Regions from separate parts of the Homo sapiens genome. Here region 2 is reported to be linked to region 1. The links are microRNA targets in miRTarBase. Many come from high-throughput screens and were not tested one by one. Region 1 holds a microRNA gene; the other region holds the end of a gene's coding sequence.

The links. The annotated mature microRNA hsa-miR-570-3p reads CGAAAACAGCAAUUACCUUUGC and lies in region 1 at 1,336-1,357, opposite strand. An mRNA with a match to its seed (bases 2 to 7 or 8) in the 3' UTR can be bound and repressed. Matches are read on the target gene's strand: a 7mer-m8 pairs with bases 2 to 8, a 7mer-A1 pairs with bases 2 to 7 and ends in A, and an 8mer does both.
Region 2: the mRNA of OTUD1 is a reported target of hsa-miR-570-3p. Seed matches in the 3' UTR shown: 7mer-m8 at 474-480.

The regions. Positions count from the first base shown.
Region 1 is chr3:195,696,386-195,700,816 of GRCh38, reverse strand. It overlaps MIR570 (microRNA 570), which reads right to left and starts at 1,416; the gene lies at 1,320-1,416. All of the region lies in intron 2 of MIR570HG (MIR570 host gene), which reads right to left. It overlaps LOC124909477 (a long non-coding RNA gene), which reads right to left and starts at 4,272. Exons shown (of 2, transcript XR_007096227.1): 1 at 4,228-4,272; 2 at 1,747-1,787.
Region 2 is chr10:23,440,576-23,444,761 of GRCh38, forward strand. It overlaps OTUD1 (OTU deubiquitinase 1), which reads left to right. Exons shown (of 1, transcript NM_001145373.3): 1 at 1-1,802. The coding sequence ends at 328. Among named protein-coding and RNA genes, the nearest start is that of OTUD1, 3.6 kb to the left of the region's middle.

The DNA of each region.
Region 1 (4,431 bases):
CTTTGCATCCTTGACAATAGTATTGTTACTATTTTTTATTTTGGTGATTCTTTTTTTTTTTTTTTTTTTTGAGACATAATCTTGCTCTGTCGCCCAGGCTGGAGCGCAGTGGCATGATCTCAGCTTACTGCAACCTCCGTCTCCTGGGTTTAAGCAATTATCTTGCCTCAGCCTCCCAAGGTGCTAGGACTACAGGCGTGTGCCACCACACCTGGCTAATTTTTGTGTTTTCAGCAGAGACAGGGTTTTGCCATGTTGGCCAGGTTGGTCTTGAATTCCTGATCTCATGTGATCTGCCTGCCCCAGCCTCCCAAAGTGTTGGGATTACAGGTGTGAGCCACCATGCCTGGCCTTATTTTGTTGATTCTAACACGTGGTGATATCTCCTGGTTTAAAGAAGCGTTTCCCTAATGGTATCAAACATCTTTTCATGTGCTTATTTGCAATCTGTATATCTTCTCCAGTGAAATGTTGCTTTGTATCTTTTGCTCATGTTCTAATTGCATTCTTTGTTTTGTTACTATTTTAAGACTTTTAAATGTATTCTAGATACTAGTCCTTTGCAAATATAGTCATGCATCGCATAAGGACATTTTGGTCAATGACAAACTGCATATAGGATGCGGTCCCATAAGATTATAATAATGGGCCTGAAAAAATTCCTGTTGCCGAGTGCAATGCTACTCATGTGTCTAGTGATGCTCGTGTAAAGCTACTGTGCTGCCACTTGCATAAAAGCACAGCGCACACCATTCTGTACAGTACACAATACTTGATAATGATAATAAATGTGTTCCTGGATAGCACAGCACACACCATTCTGTACAATACACAATACGTGATAATGATAATAAATGTGTTCCTGGTTTATGTATTTACTATAATATACTATTGATCAGTGTTTTAGAGTGTACTCCTTCTCTCTATAAAAGAATTAAGTGAACTAGCAGGCCCTTTGGGAAGTACTGTAGAAGGCATTGTTACCACAGGCGATGACAGCTCCATGTGTGTTATTGCCCCTGAAGACCTTCCAGAGAGACAAAATGTGGAGGTGGAAGACAGTGATACTGATGACCCTGACCCTGTGTGGATCTAGGCTAACATGTGTTTTTGTGTCTTAGTTTTCAACAAAAAAGTTTAAAAAGTTAAAATACTAAGTTTATAAAGTTAAAAAGTTACAGTAAGCTAAGGCTGACTTATTGAAAAAATGTGCTTATACATGTAATATAGCTAAGCTGGCTTTTGCAAACATAGAGTCCTGTGGATGTTATGCTGACTTCGGCTTGGGGTTTTTCACAGAGAGAAGCATGGCAAGGGGGACTCCATCAGGTTGGTGCAAAGGTAATTGCTGTTTTCGCAATTAAAATAATGGGAAAAACTGCAATTACCTTTGCACCCACCTAATAACTTATCTAGGGGACTCTTTCTCCACCCAAAACCCAGGACACTTGGCCCACAACTACATCACCACCCCAGGGTTCCAGGACACTTGGCCCATGACTACATCACCACCCCAGGGTTCCAGGACACTTGGCCCACAACTACATCACCACCCCAGGGTTCCAGGACACTTGGCCCATGACTACATCACCACCCCAGGGTTCTTTACTATAGTTTTCTTGTTCTTCCTTCAATTACGTGTGACATTCCCAACTCCAAGATTCTTCCAGTCCTTCTCTCCCCCTTCATCTAAAGCAGGCTGTCATGAGTTTCTGTCAGCTGCAATCAAGAGTCATGACTCTTACAGTGGGTAGGATTACTCCCTTTTTTGTTGTCATTAAGGAAACCTGTAAGAGGAAAAACAAACACACTTTATGTGGAGAGACAGGGAAAGTTGTTCTATTCAGTCTGGAATCTAGTCCCTCAGCTGGTGGTCCACCTTCGGATTCACTGGTCTTGGGAGTAAGACGGTGCCTTGTAGTCAAAGAAGTGAGGAATTCTGGTGCCTCCTGAGGGTGGAACTGAGGAGAGGAGACGTGAGAGAGGATGCTGGAAAGGAGGAAGCAGCCAGAATGTGTAGGGCCTTTGTGGCCAGGCCAAGGAGCCTCAGGGAATATCTGAGCGTCTTAAATAGGTCAGAGGGCAATTCTGAAAACAAACTCCTTCTACCTGCTGTGTAGGCAATGAGTTGTCATTGTTAGATAGAGGATAAAATGAACCCAATTAGATTATTGCCATCATTCCAGTGATTGAAGATGTTGATCTGTAATAGGGTAATGGCCATACACTTTCGAGAGGAAAAATGTTCAAATTTAGGGGATAATTAGAAATCTGCACTTACAGCCCTTGGTGACACTTTTCCTATGAGCCAAACGGAGAGGGGGAGAGAGAGAGAAGGTGGACAGTCACCGACATATGAGGCAGTGGAAGAGGAACAGGCATGGATAGGAAGAGAATTGTGGGACACACTGGGTTCGAGATGCCTGTGTGAGACAGTCTCATGAATATGTCCAGTAGTATATTGACCAAGCAAGTCTGTCAGGAGCCTCTGGAAATGAGGTACAGAATTTGATAGTCATCACTATGGAGATGGTAACCTGAGCCGTGAGAGAAGCTAAAATCCCCGGGGAGAGGATGTAGAATGAGAGGAGAAAATGGGCCAGGACAAACACAAGGAATGCTCGGAGGGAGGGGCAAAACCAGAACAGTACAGCGTCCCCAAACCAAGGAAAAGAATGTTGCCAGAAGAGGAGAGTCAGGCTGTTTCAAACTCTGCTAAGAAGTGAAGGATGTTGCATATTGAGTAGAGTCCATTGGGGTTACCAGTCAGGCTGACTCAGGGATCCTCTTTGGCAGAAGTAGTTCCAATGAAGTGGGAGGAGGAAGGGAGGAGCAGAGGCCAAATGAGCGTGAGGAGTGTTTAGGAGTTGACAGAAAGTGTATCCACTTTTTTGAGACGTTTAGCCAGGAAGAGGGAGAGACATGGGGCAGTAGGTGGAGGAGGAGATGAAATTAAGGGAGTGTATGGAGTTTTAAAATGGAAAGCTTGATCCTGTTTAAATGCTGTTTTATGCCCCTACGAGGGCGAGGTTAAACATACAGAATAGAGGCATAACTGATAGAGCCAAGACTCCCACCCAGGAGCGGGTTTCGAGCGGCACCTCTCTAATTCAATCCCAAAGGAAAAGAGGATACATGTGGGTCCAGGTACATGCTGAGGTTTGGTGGCAGGACTTTGAAGGAGGTCCCATCTGATGGCTTCTATTTCTCCTGTGAAATAGGGGAAGCCCTGTCTGCTGGTTGTGATGTGCCGTGACAGTCAGAAATGCGGGGAAAAGGGGACAGGTCTGAAACGGGAGGCGTTAAGAATGGGAAAGTAAAGGCAGGCGCGATGGCTCACGCCTGTAATCCCAGCACTTTGGGAGCTCGAGGCGGGTGGATCACCTGAAGTCGGGCATTTGAGACCAGCCTGGCCAACATGGTGTAACCCCATCTCTACTAAAAATACAAAAATTAGCCAGGCATGGTGGTGTGTGCCTGTAATCCCAGCTACTTGGGAGGCTGAGGCAGGAGAATCGCTTGAACCCAGGAGGTGGAGGGTGCAGTGAGCTGAGATCGCGCCGCTGCACTCCAGACTGGGTGGCAAAGCGAGACTCCAACTCAAAAAAAAAAAAAAAAAAGAATGGGAAAGGGAGAGTGTCTGGGGAAGCAGCGTTGCCTCGGCAAGGCCTGAGACCGGCTGGGGTTAGAGATCAGGACTCCCGCGTGGCCTCGTCTCTGCCTCTGTGCATTTTCCCCCAGCAGGTCAGCAGTGTGAAAGGCGGGGGTTCTAGTAGGTCTCACAGGGAGACAATGCAGGAAGGGGCTGAGAATTGCAAGTGAGAGGTTATTGGTAGGACGGACAATGCAGGAGCTGGATGGACTGCACGGACTGAGCGATCGCCACCGAGAGATATTTGGGGTACCCTGCCCCAGTCCCCAGCCCTCAGCCCCCGACCCACCATGGGAGGTGGGAGCAGCGGGCAGGCCGGTTGGGGGCCAGATACCCAGGCAGTGGGATGTGCAGTGGGAGGGGTCTCCGCCCCTGCCCCGGGTCCCCACTGGCCCCTCCGCCGCCGACCGGCCCCCCCGCGGCATCCCAGAGCCGACCCAGGCCCAACTAGAGGAATGGCTGCAGAGCTGGGATCCTAATGACACAGGACAGTGGTGGAGCGTTAAGAGCTCGGTGGTAAACGTGCACTGAAATACAGTCATGCTGTGCAGAAGCTCTCTAGTTTCATTAGATACCTTTTGTCAATTTTGGCTTTTGTTGCCATTTCTTTTGGTGTTTTAGTCATGAAGTCTTTGCCCATGCTTACGTCCTCAATGGTGTTGCCTAGGTTTTCTTCTAGGATTTTTCTGGTTTTAGGTCTCACGTTTAAATCTTTAATGCATCTTGAGTTAATTTTTGTATAAGTGTCAGCAAGGGGTCTAGTTTCGGTTTTCTGCATA
Region 2 (4,186 bases), not on the chromosome of region 1:
GGCATGGGCCGGGTACCCGGAGTTGCTGGCCATGGGGCAGATGCTGAATGTGAATATCCATTTAACTACTGGAGGGAGGCTGGAGAGTCCCACGGTGTCTACCATGATTCATTATTTGGGCCCAGAGGATTCCCTGAGGCCTAGTATTTGGCTCAGTTGGCTCAGTAACGGACACTATGATGCTGTATTTGATCACTCCTATCCTAACCCAGAGTACGACAACTGGTGCAAACAAACTCAAGTGCAAAGGAAACGCGACGAAGAACTTGCCAAATCTATGGCCATATCCTTGTCTAAAATGTATATTGAACAAAATGCATGCTCTTGAAATGTCTCAAAACCTTACACCCTGGGAATAATTGCATATATAACTTGTGTTTGGAGAATCACATGAACTTTAATCAGGGTAATAGCACTTTCAAACTTGCTAGTAGATTTTACTGTAGGTGTAATGCCTTAATCATCTTTTTGAATGTTTTCTCAGAGCTGGAGGTTGCTGGGCACCTAAATGATGTTTCATGATAGCTTTGGGTGATTTTACTGCTATTTATAATTTGCTGTATAAAGTGAGCATTACTTAATTTGCAAGCTGATTTCTCACAGTGTAAATTTGTTCATTCCTGGTAGTCTATTTTCTATAAAAATGTATTTTTGCACAACATTTTTAAAAACTGGTGTACCTTCATCTATGACGTGTTCCATTTTGACAAACAGCTTTCAGGCGTAAATCCAGAGAAGTGCTTTATATGAAATGTATTATTTTGAACAGAGTTTGTGATTTGGTAGTTATTTTATGTTGTTGAAATTTGAATTTCACAATTCTTAGATAATTATTTCAAATGGATATTGATGCATTCTTGTTACCAGATGTTTGGCCCATTCCATTTTGATGAAACAGAGCTGTTGTTTTGGAAGTCATTATTTTTCTAGAAATGGCGAATCTTTTAAAGAAAATTACTTAATGGAAGGTTGTGGGAAGGTGTTTTTTTGTGTTTTTTTTTTGGTTTTTGTTTTGTTTTTCCTCTTTTAAGGGATAGTAGCAGGTCTTACTTGAATGAAAGTCTGATATTTGCTGATGGCAGAATGATTATTCTGTACCCTGGTTGATGTGTAGAGTAGATTGTCTGGTGCTCTCAGTTGTTTTTATTTACATTTGTCACGTTGTTGTAAGAGAATGTTAACATGGTATAAAACTCTGTGACAAGATAAGCCTCCTGCTTTATATAACTTCTTGAATCCAGCTAAGAGATTTATAAACTAATGGCATAAATGTCTGGAGCCAACCTTGGCAGTTATAGCAGGAGAACACTGTCTTAATATTTCTTTACATTCTTTCAAAAGGCAAAATAGGATTGCCCTGTATTGATGTAGAAATGTCTGTAAACAGAGCTTGTATGGTTTGCTGGGTCAAACAATGTTTCCAACTTAAAATCAATCTCATTGCCACTTTAACTACTTTTAGTCATATTTATTAAGTAATGCAGTTTGTACTTTTTTTATTTTGTAACATTTTGTGATTTTTTTGTACAAAACTGTATTTGTACAATAGAGCAATTCCCAGCTGATGGAATGAATGAATAAAATGCAAAATTATACTTTTACAATGCCTTTTTGGATAGAGTGGTTTTTAAATTGTGATGTTTGTAGGAAACTTTCTTGCATGTATGCATGTACACAATTTTTTTTTTCCATAAAGATGCCACAGCAATAGAGAGGTTTCCTAAATTATCACATGAAGAGGATAGGCTAATCATGAGTAATTTCAAAGGATAAGTCTGAATAAAATATAATTTAAAAGTGGAGTAATCCAAGAAATTGCTCTCATTATTTCTAATTATAATTTCTGTCTACAGTTATAGCTGTACCTATTGGCTAATGAAAAAGGAAGTGCAAGTTTTGTGTCAGCCAGCAGAATGTCTAATTAAATGTCATACTTTTGTATTCCACTCACTCTCAGTATAGAGTTTAACGTTTTAGAGAGTAACCAAAGAGATGCCCTAATTTTTGTCTAGTCTGGCCTCTTGAGACCACGGGAATCTGTTTTAAGATGTTGAAAAGTGCATGCTATAGTTTGAATATATGTGTCCCACCACCCCAAATTCATGTGTTCGTCCCCATTATGGTGGTATTAAGAGGTTGGGCTTTTGGGGAAGTGATTTAAGGCATGAGCGCTCTGTCTTCATGAATGAATTAGTTGCCTTTTATAAAAAGGTCTGGAAGCAACTAGCTTAGGCCCATTTTGCTGTTCTGTTGTTCTGCCACAGGAGGACACCTAGATGGTGTCATCTGTGAGGAAGGGGCCTCCGCCTGATGTGGAACCTGCGAGCACCTTGATCTTGGGCTTCCCAGCCAACAGACTGTGAGAAATACAAATTTCTGTTCTTTATAAATTATAGGTATTTTGTTGCAGTAGCACAAATGGACTAAGTTGGTGCACCTGTGTGCATAATGTTGGGGTATGTGTAATGCATAAGAAAAGCAGCTATTTTGGATATTTTACTTTTCAGTTATTTAGACATCACAGTCATAGACACAACTGAACTTGATTGAGTTCATTGGTTAACCACATTCTTGGAAGGATGCCGTTGAATATCAAGGAAAGAATTTGTCAACGGTTTAAATGTTTACTAATCACAGATCTCTGGATTTTTGTGTAGGTAAGTTTTGCTTCATGGCTTCAGTAAGTAATTTGGGAAGAAAGAAATTCTATTATTTGAATTACCTGGCTACCCCTTTTCTCCACTTTATTTAGAGCTGTATAACATTTGGAGATGCTTAAAATTTTATACAAGTATGAGTAGAACACACAAGAATTCCTAAAAAGCCTTCTGTAAGCCTATTACTGTTTTAGGTAGCTTACTCTGTGTTCTGTTTCATTTTCAAATTAGGATTCCAAGTCCTGATTTCTTTTCTTTTTTCTTACGTTTTTATTGAGACAGGGTCTCCCTCTGTCACCTAGGCTAGAGTGCAATGGCACAGTCATGGCTCACTGCAGCCTCAACCTCAGAGCTCAAGTGATTCTCCCGAATACCTCAGCCTCCTAAGTAACTGGGGCTACAACGGTCGTCCAGCATCACACCCAGCTAATTTTTAAAAAAATTTTTTAGTAGAGATGTAGTCTCACTATGTTGCCTAGGCTGGTCTTAAATTCCTGAGCTTAAGTGATCCTCCTGCCTCAGCCTCCCAAGGTGGTGGGATTACAGGCATAAGTCACCCTGCCCAGTCCTGTTTTTAAATTTAATTTTAACATTTTGTTTATTATTTTTGAGACAGGGTGTTGTCGTGTCCCCCAGGCTGGAGTGCAGTGGCACAATCATGGCTTACTGCAGCCTCTACCTCCTGGGCTCAAGTTAGCCTCTCACCTTGGCTGCTGAGTAGCTGGGACTATAAGCATGTACCACCATGCTCAGCTAATTTTTTATTATTCATAGAGGTCGGTGGGGCGGGGGTTCGCCCTGTGTTGCCCAGGCTGGTCTTGAACTCCTGGCCTCAGGCAATCCTCCCACCTCAGCCTCCCAAAGTGCTGGGATTACAGGTGTGAATCACACACTCAGCCTTGAAAAAGAAAATCTGGAGATAATTTCATTACTTTGTTCAAGTTTATCTTATGTGCTTTTCCTAAAAAAAAAGTTATACAATTTTTTTCCAAGTTTTGCATTTTGAGAATCATTAGCACTTTACCATGACATTTAGTGCTCATGTGGAAGAAAGGCATTAGGGAAGAAAAATAGATTGTAATCCTTTGGACGTTTGATAATTTGATATGTAGGTAAATGTACTGGATAAATTCAAGTATGTAGCATGTTCACATTAAATAGTTATTTGTTACATCCTAAGTTCAGATGTCATTTTTTTGTACATCCCTAGAATGTCTATCTCAAAGAGGCACTGAGAAACTAGATGACATTTAATTCAGTTTGATTTCCCAAATTTACTAAGCTCAATAGGCACATTCCCTGTTGAATCCCTGGGTTCAAACCCAAGTACCTAGCAGAGCGAGTGCTCAGTAAATTGCTTTTTTCTTTTTTTTTTTTTAGACAGAGTCTTGCTTTGTCGCCCAACCTGGAGTGCAATTGTGTGGTCTTGGCTCAGTGCAACCTCCACCTCCCGGGTTCAAGCAGTTCTCCTGCCTCAGCCTCCCGAGTAGCTGGGATTACAGGTGCCTGCCACCATGCCCAAGTAATTT